2 linked regions of the Homo sapiens genome follow. The protein of the gene in region 2 purifies or fractionates together with the protein of the main gene of each other region. This does not show direct contact. Each region holds a gene or a part of one and is shown on either strand. Other genes may lie near its edges. The genes, in order: RPUSD2 and ALDH8A1.

Evidence for each region.
Region 1: the proteins of ALDH8A1 (region 2) and RPUSD2 purify together in Homo sapiens (affinity purification with mass spectrometry; 3 studies listed by BioGRID and IntAct, with this or other methods). This does not show direct contact.

The regions. Positions count from the first base shown.
Region 1 is NC_000015.10:40,561,476-40,577,583, reverse strand, and holds RPUSD2 (pseudouridylate synthase RPUSD2), read right to left. Parts: upstream 8,286-16,108; 5' UTR 8,247-8,285; coding exon 7,641-8,246; intron 5,981-7,640; coding exon 5,684-5,980; intron 4,058-5,683; coding exon 3,323-4,057; 3' UTR 2,635-3,322; downstream 1-2,634. Other genes in the region: CCDC32 (coiled-coil domain-containing protein 32), read left to right, coding at 14,569-14,812. UniProt on the Homo sapiens protein: Pseudouridine synthase that catalyzes pseudouridylation of mRNAs.
Region 2 is NC_000006.12:134,929,220-134,945,188, forward strand, and holds part of ALDH8A1 (2-aminomuconic semialdehyde dehydrogenase), read right to left. Parts: intron 14,748-15,969; coding exon 14,600-14,747; intron 13,346-14,599; coding exon 13,190-13,345; intron 10,197-13,189; coding exon 10,047-10,196; intron 3,814-10,046; coding exon 3,557-3,813; intron 1-3,556. UniProt on the Homo sapiens protein: Catalyzes the NAD-dependent oxidation of 2-aminomuconic semialdehyde of the kynurenine metabolic pathway in L-tryptophan degradation.

The sequences.
Region 1 (16,108 bases), on a different chromosome or scaffold from region 2:
CTGGTCTCAAACTCCTGACCTCAGGTGATCCATCCCCCGACTGGCCTCCCAGAGTACTGGGATTACAGGCATGAGCCACCGCCCCCAGCCAAAAATCGGTCATATTTCTATAGACTACCAATGAATAAATAATTAAACATGAAATTAAGAAAACAATTCTGGCCGGGCATGGTGGCTCACGCCTATAATCCCAGCACTTTGGGTGGCCAAGGTGGGTGGATCACTTGAGGTCCGGAGATCAAGACCAGCCTGGCCAACGTGGTGAAACCCCATCTCTATTAAAAATACAAAAATTAGCCAGGTGTGGTGGCGTGTGCCTGTAGTCCCAGCTACTCGGGAGGCTGAGGAAGGAGAAATGCTTGAGCCCGGGAGGTGGAGGTTGCAGTGAGCCGAGATTGTGCCACCACACTCCAGCCTGGGCGACAGAATGAGATTCTGTCTCAAAAAAATAAAATAAAATAAAATAAAATAAAATAAAATAAAATAAAATAAAATAAAATAAATAAAAACAAAAAACAGACAAATGGGACTGTATTAAACTTTAAAACTTCTGTGCATCAAAGAACACAATCAAGAAAGTGAAAAGGCAACCTATGGAATAAGAGAAAATATGTGCTAAGCATGTATCTGATAATGAGTTAATACCTAGAATACATAAAGGGCTCCTGCAGCTCAACAACAAAAAAATCAAATATGGTTGGCCCTCCATGTCCATAGATTCTGAATCTGTGGACTCAACAAATCCTAGATTGAAAACATTTGGAAAAAAAAATGGATGGTTGCATCTGTACTGAACATGTACAGACTTTTTTTCCTTATTATTCCCTAAACAGCACAGTATAACAGCTATTTATATAGCATTTACTATGTATAGTAAGTAAACTAGAGATGATTTAAAGTGTACGAGAGGACGTTTATATGCAAATAATATGTCATTTTATATGAGACTTAAGCATCTGTGAATTTTGGTATCTTGGGATGAAGGTGGAGGTATCCTAGAACCAATCATGCATGGATACTGAAAGACAATTGTAAATCAAAAAATGAGCAAAGAACTTGGATAGACATTTCTCCAAAGATGATATAAAAATTGCCAACAAGCATATGAAAAGATGTTCTCAGTAATCATCAGAGAAATGTACATTAAAACCACAATGAGATATAATCTCACATCCATTAGGATGGACACTATCAAAAAATGAAAAAAATGACACGTGTTAGTGAGGATGTGAAGAAATCGGACCCTTGTGCAGTTTGTAGGATTGTAAAATGCTGCAACCACTATGAAAAACAGTATGGAGGCTCTTCCAAAAATATAAATTAGTATTACCATATACCCAACTATTCCTCTTCTGGAATTTCCTCCCATCCTGTAGGCTGTCTTTTCACTTTTTTGATAGTGTCTTTTGATTCGCAAAAGTCCTTATTTTGATAAAGTGCAATTTATTTATTTTGTATTTCATTGATTATTATTTTGGTGTTGTATCTAAGAACCCATTGCCAAATTTAAGGTCTTGAAGATTTACCCCAATATTTTCTTCTAAGACTTTTCCTGGGCTCAACTAATCCTTTTGCCTCAGCCTTCCGAGTACCTAGGGCTACAGGCGTACATCATCGCACGCAGCTGATTTATTTATTTATTGTAGAGATAAGGTCTTGCTATGTTGCCCAGGGTGTTCTCAAACTTCTGGCCTCAAGGGATCCTCCTGCCTCGGCCTCCCAAAGTGTTGGGATTGTAGGTGTAAGCCATTGTCCTTGGCCTATTTTCAGTTAATTTTTGTGTATGAGGTAGGGGTCTAACTTTTTTCTTTTTTATGTGAATACCCAGTTTTCCCAGCACGAACTGTTTAAGAAAAAACACATTTGTTTAAGACTATTCTCTCCCCACTGAACAGTCTTAGCACTTTTGTCAAAAACCAATTGACCTTAGATGGATGGGTTTATTTCTTGACTCTTGATTTTATTCCATCACTCTATGTCTATTCTTATACTAATGCCACAGTTTTGATTTGCATTCCCTGATAACTAATAATGTTCAGCTTTTTTTTTTTTCATATGTTAGCTGGTCATTTGTATATCTTCTTTGGAAAAATGTCTATTCCAATCCTTTGCCCATTTTTAAGTTGGGCTGTTAGTCTTTTTGCTAAGACTCTCACATCCAGAATATATAAAGAACACTTACACTCCACAACAAAAAGACTAACAACCCAGAATGAGATGCCACTTCACTCCTACTAGGATGACTATAATCAAAACAAAACAAATGTTGGTGAAGATGTAGAGAAATTGAAACCCTATGCTTGCTGGTGGCAATATAAAATGGTTCAGCTGCTGTGGAAAAGTTTGGTGGATTCTCAAACATTTAAACATAGAATTACCATATGACCCAGCAATTCCACTGTGAGGTATATACCCAAAAGAACTGAAAACATATTTAATGTTCACAGCAGCACTATCCACAATAATGAAATGGTGGAAACAACCCAAATGTCCATTAACTGATGAACAGATAGACAAATCGTGGTATATCCATACAACAGCTTATTCTGCCATAAAAAAAGAATGAAGTACCGATACATGCTACAAGTTGAATAAACCTTGAAAACATTATGCCAAGGGAAACAGAGACATAGGTCACATGTTTTATCATTCCATTTATATAAAATGTCCAGAATAAACAGGCAAATCCAAACAGACAGAAAGTAGATTAGTGGTTGCCAGAGGCTGGTGGAAGGGGAGTGGAAAGTGACCACTTACTTAATGGGTACAGGTTTCCTTTTGGGGTGATGAAAATGTTTTGGAAATATATGAGGTTATGGTTGTACAACACTGTGAATGTACTAAATGTGACTACGCTGTACATCTTAAATTGGTTAATTTTTTTTTTTTTTAAGAGACAGGGTCTCACTCTGTCACCTAGGCTCTGGAGTGCAGCAGCACAATCACAGTTCACTTTAACCTTGAACTCTTGGCCTCCAGTGATCCTTTCACTTCTACCTCCCAAAGTACTAGGATTATAGCCATGAGCCACTGTGCCTGGCTAGTTAAAGTGGTTAATTTTATGTTATGTGAATTTTACATCAGTAATAAAAAAGAAGCCGGAAGAAAACCAGACATCAAAGATGTTAGAAAAAGGGATATATTTACAAACCAAAAAGTCTCCAAATTCCCACTGGAAGGAGGTAGCAAGTATGAGCAGGTCTCTTTAGAAGCCCGTCCTCATTCCTATAGAAACCCCAAGTACTAGCCCATGGGGTCAGCCCTTGCCCTATAGCCCATCCTTGTCACAACCCAAGAAGCAATCCCTCCATTGGCCACACCCTCAGTCCTTTTGCCAGTCATCCTGTGCCCAGGCAGGCATTGGTGAAAAGTACTCAAAGCCTGGCCCTTTATAGCGTAGGGCATGTAGGAACATCACAAGGTCTTGGGGCAAGGGATCCTGTCGCACCAGCCGGCACTCTGCACAGAGTGGGTCTGTCTCTTGATTCATGACATCTGTTTCAACTGCCTTCTCTGATGCCAAGGCTATTGTGTCCAACTCCTGAGGGGCTGCCTCAGCTACTTCCTCCATCTTCTGGGCAGCTGCAGCCAACTCTTCCAGGTCGTCCTTGCCCAACTCTGAGGAGGGGGCCGTAGAGTCTGTGAGTCCTGGGGACAGGTCACCCTCACAGAGATCTAGCACATCCAGGCTCTGTTTGGCCTGGTGCTCTGCTACCAGGTCCCGTAGCAACTCCTCGTTTGTCTTGGGAATGTAGCCGCCCCGGCCTCGAGAAGGACCCCAGGCAACTGAGTTGTAGATGGGGTCGTTGAGAATGGGATGGCCCAAGAACTGAAGGTGGACTCGAATCTGGTGTGTGCGGCCTGTGAGTGGCCGGCACCGTACCACACTGGACTGGCCATTGTAGCTTAGCCTCTGGAACACTGTCTCACAGGGCTTGCCCCGGGGATCTACACGGCACACCCCTACTTTGTAAGACACCACTAAGATGGGTTCTTTACAGGTCACTTCCTCAGTGGGGAACTCCCCTTCCACCCGGCACACGTACTCCTTCTCCAGCTACATAGGAGGGAAGAGGGAGAAAGTCAGTACAAAGCCTAAATTCATGGAGTCCAAACTCTTTGTGGAGTGATAAGGACCAGTGTCAGAAAATTCAAACTCCAGCTCTACCATTCGCCAGTTTTGCGATCTTGGGTACATTACTTAACCTCTAAATCCTACTAACTCATCTAGAAAATGTGAAATTAGAAAAGCATTTACCAGCTGGGTGAGGTGGCTCACGCCTGTAATCCCAGCACTTTGGGAAGCTGAGGTGGGTGGATCACCTGAGGTCGAAAGTTCGAGACCAGCCTGACCAACATGAAGAAACCCCGTCTCTACTAAAAAATACAAAATTAGCCAGGCGTGGTGGCGCATGCCAGTCATCCCAGCTACCTGGGAGGCTGAGGCAGGATAATTGCTTGAACCCAGGAGGCGGAGGTTGCAGTGAGCCAGGATCACACCATTGCACTCCAGACTGGGCAACAAGAGCGAAACTCCATCTCAAAAAAAAAAAAAAAAAAAAAGAAAAGAAAAGAAAAGCATTTACCTCATTGGGCTGTGATAAGCATTCAGTAAGTTAGGCTCTAATGTGCTTGATACTAAGCCTGGTATATAGCATGCACTCAATAAATGTATTATGATTCAGATCCAGAATTACAAGTCTCAGGACAACAATCATTACCATTAAACTCCTCTACCCAAGACTTTTCCAACTACATCTAGAATCTTTTCACCAAGCAGGCTCTCCCCATAATCTTAAAAGCCTTGCTCAGCCTGTCAGCACTTTATTTTCTTATGTTAATTTATTTCTTTGAGACGGAGTCTTGTTCTATAGCTCAGGCTGGAACGCAGTGACATGCTCATGGCTCACTGCAGCCTCAACCTCCCATGGCCAAGTGATCCTCCTATCTCAGCCTCCCAAGTAGCTGGGACTACAGGCATGTGCCACCATGCCAGGGTAAGTTTTTTTTTTTTTTTTTGAGACAGAGTCTCACTCTGTCACCCAGGCTGGAGTGCGGTGGCGCGATTCGGCTCACTGCAAGCTCCACCTCTTGGGTTCACACCATTCTCCTGCCTCAGCCTCCCGAGTAGCTGGGACTATAGGTGCCCGCCACCACGCCCAGCTAATTTTTTGTATTTTTTTTTAGTAGAGACGGGGTTTCACCGTGTTAGCCAGGATGACCTCGATCTCCTGACCTCGTGATCTGCCCGCCTCGGCCTCCCAAAGTGTTGGGATTACAGGCGTGAGCCACTGCGCCTGGCCTTTTTTTTTTTTTTTTGTAGAGATAGGGTCTCCCTATTTTGCCCAGGCTGGTCTCTACCTCCTGGGCTCAAGCTATCCTCCCACCTCAGCCTCCCAAAATGCTGGGATTACAGGTGTGAGCCTGGCCTTGTCAGCATTTTAAAGCTTCAAAATAGCAAACTACTAAGAGAGGCAGTGTATGCCATCTCTAAAGATTTTTTTGGAAACATATGAGATATCCTGCATTTGGCACTTTAGGTGTTGACCTGCCTTAAGGTAGGAAGGTAGGAAGGATGGCCAGATAAATATGAAGGACCACTTCGGAACTCCATGATGCCCTTTTGACACAGAGCATTCGTGAGCCCAAGAAGTGGCCTGTAGGAGACAAAAGCCTGACTCACCTGCCGGTCCCGAACCTGCTCGTGAATTCTCTCAGAGACTGCAGCTGTCTTGGCAAACATAAGCACCCCTGAGGTAAGGCGGTCAAGCCGATGCAAGGGGTGTAGCTCCTTGAGTTGGTGCTCCTTGCCTAGGATGAAGATAACTGTGTTGTGTCGGAAGCGGCCACAGGGGTGAACGGGAATGGAGGAAGGCTTGTCTACAACCACCACATCTTCGTTCTCAGCTAGCAGGCGAATGGGCTCTGCTGTGACTGGTGGCTCATGCCTGTGCACTGTGTTCCGCAAGAAATCATTGTCCTGTCAAAGACATAGGTAATAAGTCAGCCTAGGGACCGCAGCCTGTAATCAGTCAACTTCATATCCAGCTTCCCCTGTTCCTCACTGACATGGAAAAATGGTGAAAGCACATCTTGGGCTGAAAAAGCAGTGTGCAGAGTGTGATCTCATTTTGTAAAAATACAGACAGACACAGGCAGATAGCTGGCACTGAAAAAGTACTGGAAGGACATATGCAAAAATGTTAACTGTGTTATCTCTGGGTGGTTAGATTATGAATGTTTTTTGGCTTTGCTAATTGTATTTTCTCTACAATAAAGGTATTTAAAAGGTAAAATTTTTTAGCCGGGCGCAGTGGCTCACGCCTCTAATCCCAGCACTTTGGGAGGCTGAGGTGGGTGGATCACGAGATCAAGACCATCCTGGCTAACATGGTCAAACTCTGTCTCTACTAAAAATACAAAAATTAGCAGGCGTGGTGGCACATGCCTGTAATCCCAGCTACTTGGGAGACTGAGGCAGGAGAATCGCTTGAACCTGGGAGGCGGAGGTTGCAGTGAGCCGAGATCGCGCCACTACACGCCAGCCTGGGCAACAGAGCAAGACTCTGTCTCAAAAAAAAAAAAAATAAATAATCAAGGTAAAATTTTTTTAATGGAGGAAAAAACCTCCATAAATCATCACTTATTACGATCTTGAACAAACAAAACTAAGGCTTAAGTCCAGGGATATGGGCTCTAGACCAGGATTTGCCACAGGCTCGCTACATGCTCTTGGGCAAGTCATTTATCTTTTCTGGGTCTCTGCTTCCTGTGGAATGTGAGGGTTAGACCAGATCTGTGCTTTAGAAATTGGGATAGGAGAGGGAATTCGTCAATGTATGATATATTGACGCAAATCGATTGATCAATGGAACAAGTTACTCCAAAACCATCCATTCCCCAAATGCTGTAATCGCCTTTTCTCCACTCACAACCATGGTAAACTAGTGTTACTGAGAGGTAAACAGTGTTACTTCTGACAGGGGTGTCTGGTACCTCATAGATGTGATGGAATTTTAAAGGAGTCAAAGCACTGGGCTAAACAATTCTAGTCTCTATCCCTGACATCTCATAACTCTATGTTAAATAGTTTAAGTAGTAGTTATAGGAACATAGGCTTTGGTAGTGGCACTGTTGATAGCCTTACCCCTGTGAGTTTCCTTAGTTTCCTCAGAGGTAAAATGGAGTGGCAATACCTACTTCACAAGGCTGTCATTAGAATTAGTGGACATACAATGTTTAACTTTGTGCCCAGCACACAGTAAAGAGACATAAATGATAGCCCCTATTATTACTATTTGCACAGAGATCTACAACGCAGGGTAAAGTGATCAGTGCCCTTGCCACAAGACGGTGTTTAAAGGAATTATGAAAATTCCAACTTCTGTCCCTTGGAAACAAGGAAGCTGCCTTGAGGAAGAGGATAAACAGGCTGAGTCCTGAAGCACAGACACCCTGGCCACTTGCGGAGGTGGGAAACGGGCTAAAATAGTGTTCCAAATGAAAGCGAGAACGCTTTAGAATTGCCATGATTTTAATCCAGTACCTATGCTTTACTAAGACTAAAAAACAAAACAAAACAAAACAAAACCCGGCCCCTTTTCCTCGCCCGCTTCTGGCCAGCCCCATCAGGACTCCACCTTGAGCACGATGTTGAGGTCCTGCACCGGCTTCTCGTTGAGTTGCAGGCGGCCCGCCCGGACCGCGGCCTCATAGTAGGCCAGGGGCTGAGCTCGGAACTCGGTACTGAAGACGTGCAGCAAGCTGTGGCCCACCCAGCGACCTTTGCAGTAGGTCCGGAAGTCAAAGTAATAGGGCCGCACCTTACGCAGGCCGCCCTCGAAGTAATAACTGGTTTCTGCAAAGTGCTCATCTCCGAAGCTCACCCCGGTCCGCCGCTTCTTCGGGGGCGGCACGACACGCTCCCTGGTTGCGCCCCGCCGCTTCTTATGCTTGCCCGGGCCTGGGGCTGCAGCCGAGGGATGCTCCCCGCCTACTGGGGCCGGCTCCACTTCCCGGCCAGCCGGCTTCGGGGGCCCGGGGGACAGCTCAACCTTCGCGTCGCCACCAGCGTCACCGTTTTGCTGATGCGAAGCCCTCAGCCCGCCCTCTGTCCCAACCTGGGTAGACACTGTTTCTGCCATTGGGCCCTTATCGCCACTCCAAGTCCTGGTAAAGCTAGGGCGCCTAAGGTCGTAGCGCCAATGTCCAAGAACCCTGAGCCATCCGCGGCGGTCCAGCCACATAACCACGCTGCCCCCACTCCACTCCCAGGGTCGCGATCTGAGGACGTCACTCGGCCCCAGCGAATCAGGGAGGCCCAGTCCCGAGGCGGGGTCTGCGATAAGTGAGCGAATGAGTGAGCTGCTCGAATTAAATTAGGTGAATTGAGTGAGCTTAGAGATGAGAGACTGTAAATGTCTCACCAAAAGTGACCTTACTCAGACGTCTTCCTATTAGGGAGATACGACGTTATTTATAAAGGAAACCCTTGGAATTGCTCCGTGTAAAGGCCATGACAGGAGTAGGTCGTGTAAATTCCGAGTAGTCCCTTGGGTCTGAAGAAACGCTTGAAAGGAGCTTTATTTAAGACAAAACAAAAACTAACAACCAGAATAAAGATTGCTAAACTCTGCGAATATACTAAAACCCACTGTATTCTATATTTTAAAAGGGTCAATATTATAGTATGTGACTTGTATCTCAGTAAGATTGTTATATATGTATTTAAAACACACACAAGCACCCCAGAAGCAATGTGTTCACACCTGTGTTTCCCCCTAACAGCATGAGAAGGATTAGTGATCCCCATTCGCCTCCCACATGCTTCCATCCTGAGATTAAAACTGCAAATAGATCAGAGGATATATGGCGAGGGTTCTTAAGTGCAAAATAAACCAACTCTGGCTAATTTCATCAGAGATAGAATTATGGAAAGTATATTAGTGCCTCATAGAATTCACAAGACAACTGGAGACTAGGCTCAGAAAAAGGGCCAAATCAAGGGAAACCAAGCCTTTTGAGAGCCTGGCTTCAGACATGTCAGGGAAGAAACCCAGTTGGGATGCAGTAGACACAAGAAACTATGTTGTGCCAAAGGACTCTTTTTCCTGCAGCCCTGCCACCCCTTGGAGACCCCTAAATCTCCCTGTGTCTCTGTGTCCCTCTTCCAAGGTTAAGAGTCCTGCAGGGGAGGACTTCCATCAGCCAAACCTCATTGCTCTGAGCCCTCACTTCCAGGGTGCCTGGAGATGGAAGAATTTAACCCTCTTTTTTTTTTTTTTTTTTTTTTTTTTTGAGACGGAGTCTTGCTCTGTCGCCCAGGCTGGAGTGCAGTGGAGCGATTTCACCTCACTGCAACCTCCGCCTCCTGAGTTCAAGCCATTCTTCTGCCTCAGCCTCCTGAGTGGCTGGGACTACAGGCACGCACCACCACGCCTGGCTAATTTTTATATTATGAGTGCTGGGATTACAGGCGTAAGCCACCGCGCCCGGCCAAGAATCTAACCCTCTTTGGTATCCAGAGTGGGATTCTTCCAAATAAGGAGGCATTTCAATGTTAGTTTGCCAAAAAAAAAAAAAAAAAAAAGACAGTCTAATTCTTATCCTAGGCATTTGTATTCTGGAGAGGAGAAAGGGAAATCTTTTTTAGCTAAATTCCTTCTTCAAGTCATTAGTCTCACCAAACTAACTGAGGGACTGCAGCTGAGGTATCCACAGCTGCAGAACTCCATATGCTGAAAAGTCTGATTCCTGACTACCTCCAGAAATAAGAGGTAGAATTCTCCATTGATTGTGGGGTATGTTAGAACCAAACTACTTCACAGGAGGGACATCATCTCTCAAGTGCATCATTTCATTAAGATATTTACAGTGAAAGCAGAACCTTATCCAAAAGAAAAGTATGTATTCTTAGCTAGCCTCTTTGCTCCATAGGATTGGGGTGGGAGAATTAAATTAGTTAATTCAAGTAAAATACTTGGACTAGTGCCTGGCAAAACTGTGGAGACAGAAAACATAGCAGAATCTTGTTCCTCCTCCCCTTCTGACCTACTAAATGAGAATCTGCACTTTAACATGATCCTCAGGTGATTTTTCTGCATATTAAAGCTTGAGAAGCACTGGCATAGACCATGTAGAGTAGACATTTGTCATATTCTGTAAACATCCAGCATCTTCCGAACACCCTTCTTTTGGGTGGGGAATTTCTCACATTTCATTACTGCCCCCAAAAGGTAGAAGCCAGAGCCTTCCCACACTCTCTTGCAGCTTGGACATAGGCATTTGACCTGGGCTCTATCTCTTAGACAGAGGCTTTGGTTCAGAGGCACACAGCCGCGGAAGCAGGCTCAGTGTGAAATCCGTGTCTAACAAGGTAGCATTGGAGGCATCTAATCTGGGAGGCCAACAGTCGGGGAGGTTCTTGTGTCAAGTACCCAATCGACGAATAATGCCAGCTATAGATGTTCAGTGGCTGTGGGGTGTTCCCTGAGCAGTCTCTCAGTGAGATTCAGATACTGTCCCTGGCTGTATAGACCTAAAGCCTGACTCTCCACTCACCTTGAGGTTCTGTGAACTATGTAATATTCTCCAATCCTGTGCTATACAATAGGATCACCATTAGCCATGTGCTGTACAATAGCCACATGTGGCTAATTAAATTTAAATTAATTAAAATTTTAACAAGTTTTGAAACAAGATCTCACTCCCATCACCCAGGCTGGAGTGCAGTGGCACGATTTTGGCTCACTGCAGCCTTGACTTCCCAAACTGAAGTGATCCTCCCACCTCAGGCTCCCTAGTAGCTGAGACGACAGACATGTGCCACCATGACTGGCTAATTTTTTGTATTTTTAGTAGAGACGAGGTTTTGCCACATTGCCTAGGGTGGTCTCAAACTGGGCTCAAACAATCCATCCACCTTGGCCTCCCAAAGTGTTAGGATTACAGGCCGGATGTGGTGGCGCAACCTCCGCCTCCTGGGTTCAAGTAGTTCTCCTACCTCAGCCTCCTGAGTAGCTGGGATTACAGGCATGCGCCTCCACGCCCAGTTAATTTTTGTATTTTTAGTAGAAACAGGGTTTCACCATGTTGGCCAGGCTGGTCTCGAACTGCTGATCTCAGGTGATCCACACCCCCTCAGCCTCCCAAAATTCTGGGATTACAGGCATGAGCCACCAAGCCCGGCCAGGAACTGAATTTTAAATTGTATTTTAGCTGGGCGCAGTGGCTCACATCTGTAATCCTAAAACTATGTTGTTTTTGTTGTTGTTGTTTTCTTTTTCTTTCTTTCTTTTTTTTTTTGAGACGGAGTCTTGCTCTGTCACCCAGGCTGGAGTGAGAACTATTTCCTCAGCCAAGTTACTTGGCTACTGATGGTTGGCTGATGTCTTTCATCACGTGTTTCTTGGGAGAGAGTAACTGGTGTTGATCCTGGAAGCTGGGGATGGGGAGGGGTCGATCTCAATGAACAAGCTGGTATCTATCCCCTGAAGGATATCAAAGGTCATCTCCTTTAACAACTACAACAACAAAGCATTCTGACACACACTTCTTATGACCACTCTCTCCTTTATGTACTCTGGCCACACTTCCATCATATACTCTATAATCCTCAACGCCCCCCTCCTTTTTTTTTTTTGAGACAGTCTTGCTCTGTTGCCCAGGTTGGAATGCAGTGGTGCGATCTTGTCTCACTGCAACCTCTGCCTTCCCGGTTCAAGCGATTCTCCTGCCTGAGCCTCCCGAATAGCTAGGATTCCAGGCATGTGCCACCATGCTCAGCTAATTTTTGTACTTTTAGTAGAGACAGAGTTTCACCATGTTTCACCCAGGCTGGTCTCGAACTCCTGACCTCAGGTGATCCACCTGCCTCGGCCTCCTAGAGTACTGGGATTACAGGCGTGAGTCACCGCGCCCGGCTGTCTATCACTGTTTACTGTTATTTGTAAACTTTTATGCCTCCATGGCGGACCCCCTTCCTACACTACTAAGCTGTAAGGATCTCCAGGACTTATATCAAGTCATATGTGTCTTAACTTCACGCTTAACACAATGCTTAGAACACAGCAGGTGCTTGGTATCTATTGACTAAATGAATGAAGGAAAGCTTCATAATTTGATGAATGAGACACGAGTCTCCTGGGAGAGTAAGGAAAGAAGCCGCCGAAGTGCTCTAATTTGGGTAACGAAGGGGTGAAATTTTTAGAAGACAAACACCGACAGAGAAAGTTGTGGAGGAGGTGAACTGGCTCCGGCGACTAGGAAAAGTCAAAAGTCTTGGAAACGACTTCCCTATCCAAGCAGGGACTGGAACCCTGGATCTGCAAGGAATCAACCTGGCCCTCGGGAGGGGAGGGGCAATGCTCAGGGCACGTGACTCCACCGTTTCCCGGCAACCAGAGCCCCGTCCACCGCTCGCCTCTTGCTGCTCCTCACTTCTTCACCACGCTGAGCTCCTCTCGACCAATCGACGCACAGAACATCGTCGGGTGGGAAGGTAGTTGGAGGACTCCTGGGCTCCGTCACTAGGGGACTCCGCCCCTCCCGATTTCCTCCGGGCTACAGGCGACAGAGCTGAGCCAAGCGTTTACTGGGCAGCTGTTACGGTAAGTGAGGAGGGGCTGGGGTGCCCAGCGTTTTGGATCTCCCACTCTGGCCCGGCCCCGGAATACCACATAGAGGCCTTGGGACCTGATTCATCCCGTCCAGACAGCCCTAGAGACCTGAGCGACTGAGGCCTGGGATCTGGACGCCGGAATTTCCTGCGTGGTTCTGGACGCCCTGCCCTGGGGTAAGGGGCCATGCGGGGCTCTGGTGTGAGCAAAGTTTTGGTTTTGGGTGGCTTTAGACGAATTCGGGTTGGGGGTTCACTGTAGCGCTAGACATCAGTTCACCCAGGACCGCCGTGTCATAGCTGTCCCTTTTACTTCCGGCCTTTACGCTGGCTGGGCTCTGTCTCCTGGCATTATTCAGACCTTGCCTCAGGCAGCCTTCCTGATTTCTAAGTCTCCTCTTGAAAGAAGGTGTCAGCCTGTCTCATATGCCTAGATAGTTATAAAAGCCTCCAGGCTCTTTGCGTAGCTTTTCCTACCTGCCCGTGCTTGGGCTGCTTTCGTTATATTTTCCAAACAAGCAGGATGGTATTTGATAAAAACATGGATTCTGGAGCAGCACAGATCTGGTTTTCCTGTCAAGGATTCCCCACATATCAGTAATGTGCCCTAGAGCAAGTTACCCTTCTGAACTTGTTTTTTCATCTGTAAAATGGTGAAAATACCTACCTTTCAGTGATTGTATTAAAATAAGAGCATGAGACATACGGCTGAACTGCATGCGCTGAGCACACAGCCCTTGCATTGTAACAGTACTCTCTGACAGACACTTTTTACCAAGCAGGATCTTCATGTATATGGAACTGTGGAAAGACCTTTAGTCTGTGTTCTGTTGAAAACAGAATTTAGGGGCCGGGCGCGGTGGCTCACGCCTGTAATCCCAGCACTTTGGGAGGCCGAGGCGGGCGGATCACAAGATCAGGAGATCGAGACCACCCTGGCTAAACGGTGAAACCCCGTCTTTACTAAAAAATGCAAAAAATTAGCCGGGCGTGGTGGCGAGTGCCTGTAGTCCCAGCTATTTGGGAGGCTGAGGCAGGAGAATGGCGTGAACCCGGGAGGCGGAGGTTGCAGTGAGCCAAGTTAGCGCCACTGCACTCCAGCCTGGGCGACAGAGCGAGACTCTGTCTCAAAAAAAAAAAAGAAAGAAAGAAAGAAAAAAAAACAGAATTTAATTGACTGGAGATAGAACTGTTGCATTTTGGAGATCTTTGGAGAAAAGTGCAGGCTGGTTGTCCAACCTGGAAATGCCCTACAGATTTGTGTGTGTGTGTGTGTGTGTGTGTGTGTGTTAAAATATATGTAGCATAAAATTGACCATTTTAACTATTTTTGTGTGTATGATTCAGTGGTGTTCACATTGTTGTGCAACCATAACTACCATCCACCTCCAGAACTTTTTCATTTTCCCAAACTGAAACTGTGTACCCATTAAACAGTAATTCCCCATTCTTTCTACCTCCCAGCCCCCAGCTCCCACCATCCTATTTTCTGTATCTATGAATTTGACTACTCAGGTACCTTATATAAGTGGAATCACAGTATCTGCCTTTTGTGTATGGCTTGTAGGAATTCCATTTTTATTTTTATTTTATTTATTTATTTGTGAGACAGGGCCTCGCAATGTCACCCAGGCTGGAGTGCAATGGCGTGATCACCACTCACTGCAGCCTCTATCTCCTGGGCTAAGGTGATCCTCCTACCTCAGCCTCCGGAGTAGCTGGGACTACAGGCATGTGCCACCACACCTGTCTAATTTTTGTATTTTTAGTAGAGATGGGATTTTGCCATGTTTCCCAGGCTGGTCTCGAACTGCTGGCCTCAAATGATCTGACTGCCTCGGCTTCCCAAAGTGTTGGGATTACAGTCGTGAGCCACTGTGCTCAACCTTATGCTGTATTCTTAAAGCCAGTTCTTACTCACTTGAGCTTCTGTTTTATAGCTCAGATTCCAAATGAAAATGTTTGAGAGCGCTGACTCTACAGCCACAAGATCTGGCCAGGATCTCTGGGCTGAAATTTGTTCCTGTCTGCCAAATCCTGAACAAGAAGATGGTGCCAACAATGCATTCTCAGACTCCTTTGTGGATTCTTGCCCTGAAGGTGAAGGCCAGAGGGAGGTGGCTGACTTTGCTGTCCAGCCAGCTGTAAAGCCTTGGGCTCCCTTGCAGGATTCAGAAGTGTATTTAGCATCTCTAGGTAAGTTTGACGGCTCTAGGGAAGCATATTGAAGTTCTGTTACATCAAACTTGGTTTCCTATTCTTTTGTGTTGTTGTTATTCCTGTCACACGTATCTGTCAGATATAATTCCAAGGGATGTTTCAAGCCGGCTGTTGGGAAGCAGCCCCCTTTTCCTTGAACAGATCTTTTTTTATTTTTATTTTTAATTTTTTGAGACTTTCACTCTTGTTGCCCAGGCTGGAGTGCAGTGGCGTGATCTTAGCTCATGGCAACCTCCACCTCCCGGGTTCAAGCGATTTTCCTGCCTCAGCCTACCGAGTAGCTGGGATTACAGGCGCCTGGCACAATGCCCGGCTAATTTTTTGTATTTTTAGTAGAGATGGGGTTTCATTTCACCATGTTGGCTAGGCTGGTCTCGAATGCCTGACCTCAGGTGATCCACCTGCCTCGGCATCCCAAAGTGCTGGGATTACAGGCATGAGCCGCCGTGACTACCCGAACAGCTCTTAAAACAGTTTTTGTCACTTCCTGCCTCTGCCCAGTTCATCTAAATTCTGTGTTTGATTTCTTGGCATTCTGTAGAACCCTCTTGCCTACTGTTGGTTGCCCGTATATTCAAATAACTCAAAAGTGTTAAACCTTATGCCATCCTGCAAGAAAATGTGATGGCCCCAGGGCTACATGTGGATTTCTGATGCTGGAGTTTGAAAAACTTACATAAATAGATTGATTGTTGAGAATGGGAGCATATTGACATAAGATTCATTCTGCCTCTTGTTAGCCATTTTATTTTAAAAATATTTCCTGAACACATTTTCAGTACCCTGTCCTGCGGCCATAGTATAAGTATCTAGAGAGATTCCAAACACAGGAAAGAGATTCAAATTGTCCCATGCTAGGGGAAAAAGAAATATCAGTCTAGGGCGGTGAGGGGCAGTCTTTAGAATTGTAATATCCTTTTATTGTGGAACAACCATGAGATTCATCCATGTTTCACAAAGCCAAACCTGGGAATAAGGCTTACCTTGGCCTCCTGAAGTGCTGGGATTACAGGCGTGTGCCACCGCGCTTGGCCCTAATTTTTTTATTTCAATAGCTTTTGGTGTACAAGCGGTTTTTGGCTACATGGATTAATTGTATAGTGGTGAAGTCTGAGATTTTAGTGCACCCATCACCCAAGTAGTGGACATTGTACCCAATGTGTAGTTTTTTATCCCTCACCCCTCTCCAAACCTCCCCACTTCTGAATCTCCAAAGTCCAGTATACCACTTTGTGTTTTGTTTTTTTTTTGGTTGTTGTTTTGTTTTTTTTT
Region 2 (15,969 bases):
CAAGAATGAGAACAGGGATAAGGCTGCGGACACTCTCCTTCATGGATAGAGCACCCTGCACTTTTGAGTACCTGCCATGTATCAGGCACTGGTCTAGGCAATGGGGTACAATGGTAAATAAGACAAAGTTCCCACCATGTGGAACACATAGTCTTGTGGGAAAGACAAATAAGAACACAAGTAAATAAACTCGATAAATAATATAACTTCAGGTTGTGATCAAAGCCATAAAATAAAATTAAGCAGAGGATGGGAATGGCAACTGATTGCATGGGGAGGGGAGCTATTTTATGAAAGGGAGTCTTGGAGGGCACTTGCAAAGAGGGGATATTTGCATGGAATCTTGACTGATGTGAAGGCATGAGACGGGAAAAGATCTGGAGGTGGGGAATTAATTCTTCAAAGTACAGAGGACCTGCAGCAGGAATGAACTGGTGTGCATGAGGAAAAGCAAGAAGGTGGGTGGGGCTGAGGCTGGAAGAGGAGGCAAGGACAGGAGGTGTGTGGTAAGAGAGGAGGTCAGGAGGCCAGCAAGGCTCTATCGTGCAGTCTCATAGGTTCATAAAGAGATTACGTTTTATTCTCAGTATCATGAAAAAATAAGGGAAGGTTTTAAGCATCAGAACGATATGATCAGATTTACATTTTAAAATGCCCATTCTGGCAGCCATGGGAAAATAGGATGGAAGGAAACAAGTGTGGGAAGAGAGCAGAGGAGTTAAGAGAATATTCCAGAAGTCCAGATGCGTGTAGGTAGCTGGGACCAGGGAGGCATCCATGGAGATGCAGAGGAGTGAAAAGGACCCACTGAGTTCAACAGATTCTTCCAGGGGCACGGGACCTCCGAAGTGTGATGAAGTTGGCACAGATGCACTGGAGAAGTGATGAGATTCAGGATATACCTTAAAGACAGAACCAACAGGACCTGTCGATGGAAAGAGAGGGCAAGAACAAGAGTAGGCCGCAGAGTGGATGGTGGTGTTGTTCCCTGGAAGGGCAGACACGAGGTGGAAAGAGGATTGGTATTGCAAGGAAGGGAGAGGGAGGGAAACGAGAGCTCTGATTTGGACACGCTGGGTTTCAGATGCCTCACAGACATCAAATAGAGATACTGAGTGTACAGGGGAGGGGTTATAACAGATTTCTCAGTGAAAAATAACCCTATCATTTGAACATAGCATGTAACAGTTTAGACTTAGAGTTGGCATGTAACCACATTCTAGACTTTCAAAGCATTATTTATGCATGAAAAGTACAGAAATGCATAAATATTTTCACCATGTTTGTGTCTGACTTCACAACAATCTTAGAAAATAGAAGGTTCCTGATTGTCTTGGTATTTGTACAAAGGTACATTGTCCAGATTAAACTGTTAATGTTTTGAAATAACACATTCTTTTTGCAACCAGGATCGCTGTTAGGATCATCTCCATATCTAGCTTGGGAAATGTCTAAACACTTGATAGTTTCATTTGCGCAAGCGCCCTGTGACATCAGGGAAGGAGAGCATGACGAAGAGGCTAGAGGGGTTTACCCAGTTCCCTGTTGCTCTGTGCCTAGAAAGCGTAGGTAAGCATACCAAGATGCCCACAAGAAAGACTTTGGAGAGATTAAGAAAAGGACAGTATCATTCGTTGAGTGCCTATCGTCAAGCCAGACACTGCGCAGGGTGCTTTCCTCATTATAAATAATTCTGTAGCCTGTTAGCTTTTCCAGTTTACAGGTAGGAGAAAAAGTTTTGAATTAGTACATGTCCAGGGTCACACAGAGATGCTTCAAAAAAGCCAATTACATTCAATTAAGGAAGAAATATGCACGACACGGAATTCATCGCTCAGCTAAATCAAGCTGCTTTATTTATTTTGCCTAAAATCCATTTGTGACCTTGGATTAGCCAATTAGTTAGGCGTATGTCTCTTTCCCTATTTCCTTTTTAAAACAACCCCAAAAGGAAGGTTCTCTGGGCAAACTCAAATCGTAGCACAATTCTGGTAGGAGAGAAGATTACACTTCTTATCTCCATGTTCAGAATTTGTTTTGTTTGTTTGTTTGTTTGTTTTTGAGATGGATTCTTGCTCTTATCTCCCAGGCTGGAGTGCATTGGTGCTAACTCGGCACACTGCAACCTCCACCTCCCGGATTTAAGAGATTATCCTGCCTCAGCCTCCCGAGTAGCTGAGATTACAGGCGCCCACCACTATGCCCAGCTAATTTTTGTATTTTTAGTAGAGATGGAGTTTTGCCATGTTGGCCAGGCTGGTCTCGAGCGCTCCTAACCTCAGGTGATCCACCCACCTCGGCCTCCCAAAGTGCTGGGATTACAGGTGTGAGCCACCATGCCTGGACCCTCAGAATTTGTTTAATACAGAGTTTACCTTTCTCTCATCTTAGTTTCTCAGTCCACAAAATTTGTCCCTCTGTTGTTGTCTGTAAGCCATGAAAACACTTGGTTTAAATGTTCACCTGAAACTTGCTTAATGATTAAATTAGTTGTATTGTAAAAGTATATTGTCTATTGATCCAGAAATTATATTTCTAGCCACTTCAAGAGTTACAGTGAGAGAAATAATTACACTTATGATTATCATGAAGATAATAATTGAAAGTAACATTTTTCACTCTATACTCATGAAAACCCTGTTAGAAGACATCATTATTGTTCACATGATTTTATTAGTGAAGCAATGCAGTTTCAAAAGTTTATGCACTATTCAATGTTACCTGAGTTAGCTCAATATAGACATCTCTCATTTCACTGCTGTTTCCTTCTATGAAGTTCTAAGTCTTTGGCCTATGTTTTTACTCTCTGTTAAAATAAAAATATCCTTTGAAGAAAATCATCCAGGGTTTATGTACACCTGCTATATCCTGGGCAGTATTCTAAGCATTGACATTGAAAATACCACACAAAAGCAGGCAGCGTTTCCATCTTCTTGCAGCCTACTGTTTAGTTGATCTGGTGTAGTGTTCTTAACTCTTTGGAATGCCATAGCCTTAAAGAATCTGACAAAAACTACAGAGCACAGAGAAACATCTGTTATGTAATTTCAGGAGCTACAACGATGCCCTGAAGCTGATCCATGAATCCACGCCAAGAAATCTTCTCTAGTCAGTTTCAGGTATTTGGAACTCAGTGGATGAACGCATTTTGAATACTTTTGAAATGAGAGTAAGGTTTACTGGGAATAGGACATTTGAACGACAAGCAAAGACAGGGTTTAAGAAAAGAATAAAAGACAAGACAGGGCAGCTGTGTGAATAAAGAAATGGAGATGCTTGGAGCAGCAACATCAATCATTCCACCCATGGCTGGTACCTGATAAAAGCTGTGCAACTCAAGAAGAGGAGTTTGCTGAACAGAAGCTGTGACTCTGCAAGGCCACTAATTAATGTTAAAATTGAGCAGAGAGTTAAGGGAATCACACAATGTACTGATCCTGCTTTCTCGGAAATGGCACTGGATTGACTGGCTTGCTCCCAGGCATTGCACTGTGATAAAACAGATCCAGCTTGACAGGGCCATGGAGGGGAGGGAGAAGAACCCCCGGGGACATACCTGGTTGGCAAAGCTGGACCTGACGGTTGCCGGAATGCACTCATCCAGGTTGGCGTCCTCAAAGATGATGGCAGGATTCTTGCCCCCCAGCTCCAGGGAGAGCTTTTTGCAGTGGGGAGCGCTCAGCTGGGTGATCCGCTCAGCGGTGGGCTGGCTCCCGGTGAAGGAGATCAGGGGCACCTCTGGGTGGGACACCAGGGCCTCACCCACCCTGGGCCCGGTTCCAAACACAATATTGACCACACCTGGTGGAACACCTGGATAGGAAACAGTATCAGTTATAGTAATTCTCAGTATGTTGAAGAGTTCAAGTTACTTGGAAATTCTCCTTTAAAGTCCAATCGCTTGAATGGGAGTGGGTAGGGATGGAGGAAGCACTTGGGTTTTACAACACTTGGAACTTCTATGGCTGCCTCTGGTTTAATAGCAAAGCAAAAACCACAGATTCACCTCTGCCCACAGTAAACACCAGGTGGGATTCCACTGGATGCTTTGCCCTAGAGAGATGCAGGGTGGAACATATTTTAGGTGATTCATTCCATAATACTGGCTAGGCCTTAGGGGTTGAGGATGCAGAGATAGTCTCAGGCAGGTCAAGCCCACTAGGGGAGCAGCACCCTGCTCCATCTTGGTGTCCAGGAGTCACAATGCTGTGTGAAAACATTAAGTAGAGAGGTGTATACATGCTGCAGAGGTGCAAAGAAGAGATTGACTATCTTGGCCCAGGGAAGCAGGGCAAGACTCCCCAGGGAGGGTGGGTTTCAGGTTGGAAGTCATGTCCACCATGCTTATAAATAGCATCATAACACTGTAGTGCCAACTTACAAGTACCACAAACAACCAAAAATGGGTGCCCCAATCTTTTCTATCACAAGACTCTGCTACCCTGTATCTTCGTGCATTTATGCATGTGTTTTCTTGTTTTATTATTTTATTTATTTATTTATTTTTGAGATGGAGTCTGGCTCTATTGCCAAGGCTGCAGTGCAGTGGCACCATCTCGGCTCACTGCAACCTCTGCCTCCCAGGTTCAAGAGATTCTCCTGCCTCAGCCTCCCGAGTAGCTGGGATTACAGGCGTGCACCATTACACCTGGCTAAATTTTGTATTTTTAGTAGAGAGGGGATTTCATCATGTTGGCCAGGCTGGTCTCGAACTCCTGACCTCAAGTGATCTGCCCACCTCGGCCTGCCAAAGTACTAGGATTACAGGCATGAGCCACCGCGCCCAGCCTATCCATGATGTTTTCTGGACTTACTTGTTCATTGCCTGCACACAACTAGAAGGTACACTAGCTAAGGGCAGAAACAGTGTCTGTTCTTTGCTCTCCGTTGTTTACTCTGTGCCACAGCCTAGTTTGGCATTGAGAAATAAAAATAAAATCCTAAGCTCCCCCAGTTGACTGAATGCAGCCTCTCTTGGCCAAAGCGATCCCAGAGAAACCTTAAAAACTGAGTTCCCAGCCATTATGGGATGAGAGGTCAAACACGCCATAGTATGACTCTTCCTTATTAATCTTTAACCAGAATTCTTTCCTCAGTGTAAGCAGAAACCAGCTCTAAAAAACAAGAAATGGATAATCTATTCCTTTATCGCCTTTAGCTAACCATCTGAAACTGCAACCAAATTTTCCTCCCTCTTTGCAGTTTGGATGTGACAGCTCACCAGTCTCACAACACATCCCTTCCTAAAAACTGATCACCATCTCGACTGGTTTTGGCTGACTTCCCGAGGATACGTAGTGAGGGTTTTCATGTCCTCTGCTTCACCTTTTGACATCAGAGGGCCAAAAACTCAACCCTCGGAACATGCTAAGGCTGCCATTTTTTGAGCACGTGATCCAGAATTCATGTCCACCATGTATATAAACGCATCATAACACTGTTATATAACACTACTCAGGAGGCTGAGGCAGGAGAATCTCTTGAACCCAGGAGGCAGAGGTTGCAGTGAGCCGAGATGGTGCCACTGCACTCCAGCCTTGGCAATGCAGCCAGACTCCATCTCAAAAATAAATAAATAAATGAAATAATAAAACAAGAAAACACATGCATAAATGCATGAAGATACAGGGTAGCAGAGTCTTGTGATAGAAAAGATTGGGGCACCCATTTTTGGTTGTTTGTGTTACTTGTAAGTTGGCCCTACAGTTTTATGAGCGCATTAAGCTCATCTGTGCATGCACCTGTTTCCCCTTTCATAAATATTCATGACTCCTCCCATATCCTACTGAATGTGAATATTCAGCCACTCTGCTCAGGATAAATTTCTGTTCCCTTTGCCCCTCCTCCAAGTACTTGTTCTCCGCTTTGGGCAGAGGCTACGCTTCCCAGCCTGCAAGATGGCTAGCCTGCAGGCTGCAACCCTTTATAAGAAATAAAACCCTCCTTTCCAAATGCATGAACCTTATGATTCTTCAGTTGATAGCACATGGAACTCAGACCAGTAAATGCAAACATTAGATAGGGTGCTTACTGTGGACTCATCACTGCTATCCGTGACTCACACACTTCAGTCTTCACAACAACCTTAGGATGTAGGTAGTTTTATTACACTTAGTTCACCAGGAAGAAATTTGAGGGAAAGTGAGATTGAATAACAATCAGTAAGCAGCAAAGCTGACAGGTTAATGACTGTTAAGTAAATGAATGAGTGAATGAATGCTTAGTGTACGTTATTCAAATTAGAAATGGTTCATGAATGGGGAAGCTTTAAAAAGAAAATCATCTTTATAATATCCAAAAAGAAAGTCATCTGTATAATCACGCTGTGTCTAGGCAGTTCTTAGGGTCTGCCTGGAGGTAGCAGAGTTTATTCCCTCTATTTCCTCAGGCCTGACCTACGGTAGGTGCAGAAATCTTGCAGCATCTCGGCTTTGTGACCTGCTTCCTTGCTTCTGGTTTCCTTCCCTTTGCTCCAGGTTAGACAATCTCTCCTCATTAGAAACATACTCCTTTGGATACAACCCATTTCTTCCAGAATCTACTTTTAAATTATAAATAATATAAATACTAATTTCACACTGATGATCCATTATCATCCAGAACATTCTCCCATACAGCCACAGCCTTGGCCCAATCACCTTGAAGCTACAGTGAAGGTCCCATCCCAGTGAGTCCTCAGGAGACAGGTGGGAAGATTCCACAAGTTGTGATGGTGCCTAGCAGAGCCCCACTTCTTTTTTTTTTTTTTTTGAGATGGAGTCTCGCTCTGTCACCCAGGCTGGAGTGCAAAGGCGCAATCTCTGCTCTCTGCAACCTCCGCCTCCTAGGTTCAAGCGATTTTCCCACCTCAGCCTCCTAAGTAGCTGGGATTACCGGCACTTGCCATCATCCCCAGCTAGTTTTTGTATTTTGGTAGAGATGGGATTTCACCACGTTAGCCAGGTTGGTCTTGAACTCCTGACCTCAGGTGATCCACCCACCTTGGCCTCCCAAAGTGCTGGGATTACAGGCATAAGCCACCATGCCTGGCCAAAGCACCACTTCTAAGCATTGCATCTCTTTACCCAACATGCACATTTGTTGAAATCTAGCTTAGGTCAGTCCTGGATTGTAGGTCACTGTCAGAGGAGTGGCTGGCACCATGTGAGAGCACCCCAGCTTTGGGTTGGGGCAAAGGAAAGTGTGGAAGGAGAGGATCCCCCTCAGTAGGTGATGCGACGAAACAAGGACAAGTCTCCCACAGTTTCCTGGGTAGGGCCCCACATCTCCACCAGTGATGGGGCATGCATGTGGGTGGATGGGGTGTGGGGCAGGAGGGGGTGGACTGTTAGGCTTTATCAATCCTGAAGGCAAAAAATGAATGGAATCACTGCTAATGTTCAGAGTAGCATTTTAACTGAGGGTGAGAGAGAATGCGGAAGCACTGCATATTTATCCCCACAGTAAAATGCGCTCACTGCGGCAGCGGATTGCTTTCCCCACGACAGTATTATCATTTTGACTACATTCCCTTGGGCTTGGATGCTAATGTCAGCTGGCCATTATTTCTCAGTACCATTTTGACATTTTATCCAGAAATTAATGGAATTTTTCTTGAGATGTCTGCCCTCTAACCTTGAAGAGATTCTGGTGATAAGAGAAGGAAAGCAGTTTAACTGACAAATAGCAATTTAGCAAAACTCAGGGGAGGTGGCTAACAGACAAGTTAGGAACAGACGAGAACAGACTAGAAGGAAACCCCTCAAATGTAGGGGCTTGGCAGGGTGGCAACAAGAAAAATTTTAGGCTTAAATAGAGCACACACACACACCCACCTACACACACACATCTCCTGCTCCACACACACACCTAATGGGAAGGGCCAGGAAAACGCAGTCAGTGGGCACTCCAGGAATGAGGGCAAATTTCCAAGAAGAAATGACTATTCCAGGAATCCCACAGAAGTATTCACTGTGTCATCTTAAAAATGAGTTTATTTTAAAGGAAGTTTATCTGTCAAGTCTGTTTAAATGCCCAGGACTAGAGGAGCTAACTCTTTAAACATCCAGAACGAATTAGTTATTTTCGCTTTTCCCTCCCCTACTAAAAGCTTCTCTTACGTTGCTCTAAAGCAGATGACACAGATGTGGTTCGCATTCCTTCCAATCCCAGTGGAGAAACTGAGGGCTCAAGAGAGGAGCAAGGTGAACATGACCCCCTCTATATTTGTCAGGGGAGGAAGTTTCAGCCCATGGAGGAAAGAGGAGAAGGGCTGTCTTAGTTTAATGGGCTTACTAGTTCCCAAGAAATAAAATCAATGCTGTGCAGAGATGGAAACAGAAACTGTCATGCAGGCCAGGTTCAGGGCAGACTGGCTGGGAAAGATAACTCATCATCTATCCAGACGTTCTTGGTCTCAGGAGAGAGTGGTTAAGGGAACACGGCTCTGCACGCCACCCCTGCCTCCAAATCCCAGTAGAGGGCAAGCCCCAGGCCTAGTCCACTCTGGGGAACCTGCAGTCACCAGGCAGGGAAGAAGTATGTCGCGCCTTTGCAGACACCACAGACCTCATTTTACAAAGAATGGGATTAGACTGTGAGGTCTTTTGTAGGGGAGGAACATGGGAAGGGTCGGCACATTTAAATGATATACCCCGCCCCACCCCCTCCACCTCGAAGCCTGGGAGCTCCATAGATGACAAATCAGAGTCCTAGGCTGGGAGGCCTCATTCCTCTGGAGGACCCTGGGATCGTAAGGCCCAGTGCCGTTCCCTAAACAGCCTCAGTTTTGAGCCTTCATCTTCCTCGTGGAGTAAAGAACTGGCTAGGGTTTACTGGAAGTTAATGTGTATGTCTGTGCTTCTAAGAAAGGTGTTCCGAAGCGGGAGAGAGGGACGGACTCTTACCCACCGGGCATTCTGTGGATACAGGAGAGCCCAGCAGTGCCTCTCTATGGGCTGAAAGGCAGCAAGGAGACCAACTAGAAAGACAGTGAGTCTGTCTCCCCCACCCAGCACTCCTGCCCTGGCCGTGGGGTGACATAGCAAAAAGACCTCACATTAAGGGGACTTCTCACAGGAGGGCTGCTGGGGTCTCCTGCCTGCTGCCTTCAAACAGTGCCAGCCTGTGCCTGTGCGGAGCTACAGCCCAGAACAAAACCAGGAGCGCATCCTGAATGCGGCCAATAAACTATTAGCAGAAAAAGAACAAGGAGCAAACGTGTGAACCTTGATATGCTAGGAAGAGGCCATATTGTATTAGCTTTCCAGTAGCAGTCCCAAAGGCAGGAAAAACTGAAGGATGTATATTTAGATCTCTTGAAATCGGGCTACTTCTACTAGGTATTCTATAGCCAAGCAAACTGTAGGTGTACCTAGCAATATTCTTATTGTCATCAGGATTAACTTGTGATTCAAGATTTTATTTTATTATTATTATTATTATTTTATTTTTTAATTTATTTTTTTGAGACGGAGTCTCACTCTGTCGCCCAGGCTGGAGTGCAGTGGTGCAATCTCGGCTCACTGCAAGCTCCGCCTCCTGGGTTCATGCCATTCTCCTGCCTCAGTCTCCCAAGTAGCTGGGACTACAGGCGCCCGCCACCACGCCCAGCTAATTTTTTGTATTTTTAGTAGAGACGGGGTTTCATCGTATTAGCCAGGATGGTCTCGATCTCCTGACCTCGTGATCCACCCACCTCAGCCTCCCAAAGTGCTGGGATTACAGGCGTGAACCACCACACCTGGCCCCAACTTAAGATTTTAATTGACTCTCTGGAGCAGGCAGGTGTCTTTGATTTGATGGGGCTGTTTAAGTCTGCGTCACTATTGTGCTGCCAGTCGCCCACCCTGGGGAGTGGAACTTGCCTGCAGTAGCACCGTTCTGGTGTTGAAGACAGGAAGCAGGGTGAGGGAACCCTGTGGGTGGAGGGGATTTCCCAGACAAGGATCAGAAAGACAAAGCCCATGATGTCACTGGAATCGATTGTGCTGCTGAGTGGAAGATTTCTATAAACTATAGGTTTGCTCCAACTCTGTGCCTGCCCCCCAACCCCAACACCTAATTACCTGCTTTATCCAGGAGTTTGCACAACATCCACGCAGTCACTGAAGTCAGCTCACTGGGCTTGGCTATCACAGTGTTCCCTGCAGCCATCGCTGGAGCTATCTTCCAGGTCAGCAAGTAGAGTGGCAAATTCCAGGGGCTGATCAGACCAGCTAAGGGATGAGAGCAGAAGCACTGCCTGTGACGGCATACCCCTCTGAGGTGGACTGGCCAAGTGGGGTTATTAACGCAAAACTCCTTCATGCTGCAGAAAACTTAGCTTACTCTTCTAACTTCTTCCCAAGCTTTGCTTATTTGTAGCCACTTTCAGGGAAATAATTCTAAAATATATTCCAAGCAACTGTATCTTTTAAAACAGAGTAAAGTCAATATGATTTCCCCATTTCTTGGCAGTTCATGATTATGAACAACAGCAATATAAACTCCAGAGCTAAAGAGTTGTCACCTATCATATACCCAAAGAAATATAAATCATTCTATTATAAAGATACATGCACGCGTATGTTCATTGCAGCACTTTGCTATTCACAATAGCAATAGCAAAGACATGGAATCAACTCAAATGCTCATCAATAATGGATTGGATAAGAATATGTGGTACATATACACAATGGAATACAATGCAGCCATAAAAAGGAACGAGATCATGTCCTTTGCAGGCACATGGATGAAGGTGGAAGCCATTATCCTTAGCAAAGTAACACAGAAACAGAAAACCAAACACCTGCATGTTCTCACTTATAAGTGGGAGCTGAACAATGAGAACACATGGACACAGGGAAAGGAACAACACACAGCAGGCCCTGTCAGGGGAGAGTCGGGGGGAAGAGCATTAGGATAAAGAGCAAATGCATGCTGGGCTTAATAGCTAGGTGATGGGTTGATAGGTGCAGCAAACCACCATGGCACACGTTTACCTATGTAACAAACCTGCACGTCCTGCACGTGTACCCTGGAACTTCAAAAAAAAATAAAAAATAAAAAAACAGTTGTCACCTGTCACTAAACAGTTCCAGAATGTGACGCATTTTGAGATTTATAGACTGAGCTTTACTTTTTCAAAAATGTCTCCTTCCCCATTATTTTAACGGTCTGGCTGTTATTTCTTCTAACATGTTTCTTTACCTTTACTTCAAATCTGTCATGGGTTGAGACATAAAATCTCAAGCTTTATATAATTATTCATAAAATAGGGGCCAATGAGTTCTGAGTGTTCCATGTGAGGGCCCTCCTATCAGTAAAGCCAATAACCTTTGGTGCATGGACTGTGACATCCATTTTGGCTATTTAGAATATTTTTAAATAAAAATTCTCTCTAGATTGTCACTTGTATCCTGACCAGATAGATTTGCTGGATGAGTAACGTAACCAGCAGCTAGAATGTGTCTCCATGCAATATTCTGAACCTATCCAGGTTTCCAATCACAAAACAAACAAATATAAAAATCTACCTTCTGAAAGGAAATTGATTCACCTTATTTTATACTCTTCCCTCAAGCCTGTGCTATGAAAGTAAATGCATCTTTTATATTATTAAATTTCCCACTGAAAAATCCATTCTTTAGGGGATAAAAATATTTTTGCAGCAAAATATATTAGCACACTTCCTAGGAGGAGGTAGAGCTTTCCACAATGCCTTGAAAACATAATTTCTGAAGGTTTCAAGTAACCAAAGCAATGAGATGTCCCAATTGTTTTCCTTTTAGCTTATATTCATAAAATGTAATAAGCTAAAAAGATGATTTTTTTCTCCGAGGAAACAGTGACATCTGGTGGAAGGTTTTAGTCATCACAGACATTTATTTATACGTTCTTCCAAAGGTCAAGAGGCAAAGGAATGCATGAAGTAAGATAATTCTCAGTAGAGGCTTATTTATCACACACCTGGCACCATACTACATGCCCTACACTTATTAATTTATTTAATGTACATAAATAGTTCTTTCTTTTTTTTTTCTTTTGAGACAGAGTCTCGATCTATCACCCAGGCTGGAGTGCAGTGGCACCATCTCAGCTCACTGCAACCTCCGACTCCCAGGTTCAAGTGATTCTCCTGCCTCAGCCTCCCAAGTAGCTGGGACTACAGATGCATGCCACCACGCCCGGCTGGGTTTTTTTGTTTTGTTTTGTTTTGTTTTTTTGAGACCGAGTCTCACTCTTGTCGCCCAGGCTGGAGTGCAATGGCACAATCTCAGCTCACTGCAACCTCGGCCTCCTGGGTTCAAGCAATTCTCCCTGCCTCAGCCTCCCAAGTAGCTGGGATTACAAGTGCCCGCCACCACATCCAGCTAACTTTTTGTATTTTTAGTAGAGATGGGGTTTCGCCATGTTGGCCAGGCTGGTCTCGAACTCCTGACCTCAGGCGATCCGCCAATCTTGGCCTCCCAAAGTGCTGGTATTACAGGCATGAGCCACCGCGCCCGGTGAATTTTTGTATTTTTAGTAGAGACGGGGTTTCACCATGGTGGCCAGGCTGATCGAATTCCTGACCTCAGATGATCCTTCTGCCTCAGCCTCTCAAAGTGCTGGGATTACAGGCGTGAGCCACTGCGCCCAGCCTGATTTTTCCTTTTTTAAATATAAGTAGAAAAAAAAATCCTGGCATGTGAATTTACATATTTACTCTTAGCATCATTCTTTTCCCTATGATTTTCCAGATAAGTCATGAACATGAGGCCTGGCGTGGTGGCTCACGCCTGTAATCCCAGCACTTGGGGAGGCCGAGGCGGGAGGATAACTTGAGGTCAGGAGTTTGAGATCAGCCTGGCCAACATGGGTGAAACCCTGTTTCTACTAAAAACACAAAAATTAGCCGGTGTGGTAGCTCGCACCTGTGGTCCCAGGTACTCAGGAGGCTGAGACTAGAGAATCACTAGAATCCGGGAAGCAGAGGTTGCAGTGAGCCGAGATCATGCCACTGCACTCCAGCCTGGGCGACAGAGCAAGACGCTGTCTAAAAAGAAAAGCAGGGAATTTGACACAAAGAAAATAAACTAGAAATAGATCTTTGAGGCCAATGGATTTTAGAAAAGAAAAATATCAGCTCTTCCTTTTCTTTAACCTGTTCCTTGAGGACAATGCCATAGAATGTTGTGAGCATCTGCAAGCATAACCGGGAGGTGGGCTCTCACTGAACAGCACTCACCGACTCCCACCGGGGCCCGCACCGTGTAGTGCATGCAGCCCAGGTGGTCCATCTGCGTGCACTCTGACGTGTGGTGCAGGCTGGAGGAAGCGAAGAACCTGAAGTTCTGCACAGACCGGGGAATGTCCATGGTTCTTGCCAGTGCTAAGGTTTTCCCTGTAAGAAGCAAACAACATAAAGCACTATCAGCTAATGGGGACACTCTATCCATCAGCTTCCACTGCCCACGCGTCCCAACTCACACTGAAACAGCCTGGATTCCTTCTAGCCCGGGGCAGGCATTCCTTGACCTCACAAAGACTTGATCATGGTTTGATAAAACCATACAATATTTAGGTATAAGGTTGGAAACTGAGGTGGGGGGTTAAAATTGAGTCAATAATCTTTGTTCTGTGAACTGAACACATCATTCTCATCACCAGTTTGCCAGATGCTACCACTTCACCCACACAAACTCTTGCAATTCAAAATCACCAGGCTTTGTACCTGCGACAAAGGCATTGAAATACGGGTGTTAGGACAGTTGTAATTGCACAGCACAAAACGAAACACTTTTATACACATGTAATGTGTATTTCATGACCTCCCCACACATGGTAGAGTCATCAGAAGAGCGGCTGGGAATGCCCTGGCACGGGATGCTGTGTGGCACCTGCTTGCCCATCACATGCCCTGCACGTCCTAGCTCCTGGATGGAACAGAAAGAGAAACAGAAGCTTACCTAGACTGCTACTGAGTTCTCTTTAGCGATGCAGGGAGCCTGGCCAGGAACACCAGCAGAGAACTATTTTCTTTTTAAGGGCTTGGACTCAGGCTGCTTTCTGATTTTTGATTGGTTTATGGCACACATGTAATTTTTAAAACTCTTGGCTTATCTTAACAGATATTCTTGCAAAAATTTACAAATATTTACTCCATTACTCTGACCTCTGGGAAAGAGTGGGAAAAAAAAATGAGATGTGTCGGGAGTGGAATGGTGACTGACATATCAGAAAACATCCTAAATAATCTGACTGCATAACTGCTTTTCAAATTATCTTTGCTTTGAAATTCTCTGCTTAGAATGAGTAGGAGACTGCATGATCAGCCCTAGTTCTTCATCTCTCCCTATATCCATGCCCTTTGCTGTATATATTTGCACTTCCTTTCATCCAATGAACAGAGTATATTTCTTTGCCCCTCAGCTTTTGGATCCAGCCATGTGACTTTCTCTGGCCATCTGAATGAGACAGGGCTGGGCCAGCCACAAGTCCTGGCCTTCCCAGGCCTGGAGCAGGGGAGGGTTTGCTCTCCACTTCTACTATTGCCAGAGGAGCAGGCACATGGGCTGGCCTGATGGCCCCAAGAGGGATAACATGAATAATCAGAGATGCCCTGAGTCCCATGTTACAGTTAAGAGGCAACTCTCACCTTGGTCTTTAGACTCGGCCTGGGCAAACTCCTCCAGGGACTGCTCCAGCAAATCCGCCACCTGGTTCAGGACCCGTGAGCGCTCCTGGGGGCTGCGGGATGACCAGCTGGGAAAGGCTTCTCTGGCGGCCTTGACCGCGGCTTCGATCTTTGAGGAGCAAATGGGAGAAAGGGTCACCTTAAAGCTGTTAGTCCTTGGGGGATGGACAAAACCAGAATCCTCAGGTCTCCACACACCTCATTTTTGTTTTGTTTTGTTTTGTTTTTTAGATGGATTCTCACTCTGTAGCCCAGCCTGGAGGGCAGTGGCGCAATTTTGGCTCACTGCAACCTCTGCCTCCGGGGTTCAAGTGATTCTCCCACCTCAGCCTCCTGAGCAGCTGGGATTACAGGCATGTGCCACCATGCCCAGCTAATTTTTGTATTTTTTAGTAGAAAGGGGGTTTCACCATGCTGACCAGGCCGGTCTTGAGTTCCTGAATACAAGTGAACCACTCGCCTCGGCCTCCCAAAGTGCTGGGATTACAGGTGTGAGCCACTGCACCTGGCCCACCCTAATTTTGAATATTCAACATGTCCCAGTGCTGAGCCACCCACAAAGTAGATGACACAGGTGTTTACATGACCAGCAAAGGAGGGGTACCATAGAAACAAAGAAACGCGCTCCATTTCAACCAATGCATCCTGAATGTAGTAATCAGATCATTAGAAAGAAGCTATTTGAATTTTAACATATGTACATTTTCAATCACTTCAGAAACTAGAATTTTTAAAAATATTGTGGGCCAGGAGTGGTGGCTCATGCCTGTAATCTTAGCACTTAGGGAGGCTGGGTTGGGAGGATCGCTTGAGCCCAGGAGTTTGAGACCAGCCTGGTCAACATAGTGAGACCCTGTCTCTACACAAAGGTTTTTTAAAAAATTAGTTGGGCGTTGTGGTGCATGCCTGTAGTCCCAGCTACTCAGGAGGCTAAGGTGGGAGGATTACTTGAGCCCAGGAGGTAGAAGCTGTAGTGAGCTGTAATTGTGCCACTGCACTCCAGCCTAGGTGACAGAGTAAGACCCTGTCTCAAAAAAATGTATATGTTATACATATATACTATATATATATAGTATATATAGTATGTATATATTATATATACAGTAGAAGAAGAAAATTAATCTAGATATGTGGAATCTCTAAAGCTTCTAACTCAGCTCTGACATATCTTATAAAGTCTGAAATTTTGGGTGAAATCACATCCTCAGATTGTCATTTTCACTTGAAATGACTAATTATATTTATAATTTATTGACTAATTTTTATATAAGGGAATATGCTAAATACTTTACACAAATTATTTTTATTTAAGTCCTTTCAAAATTCTATAA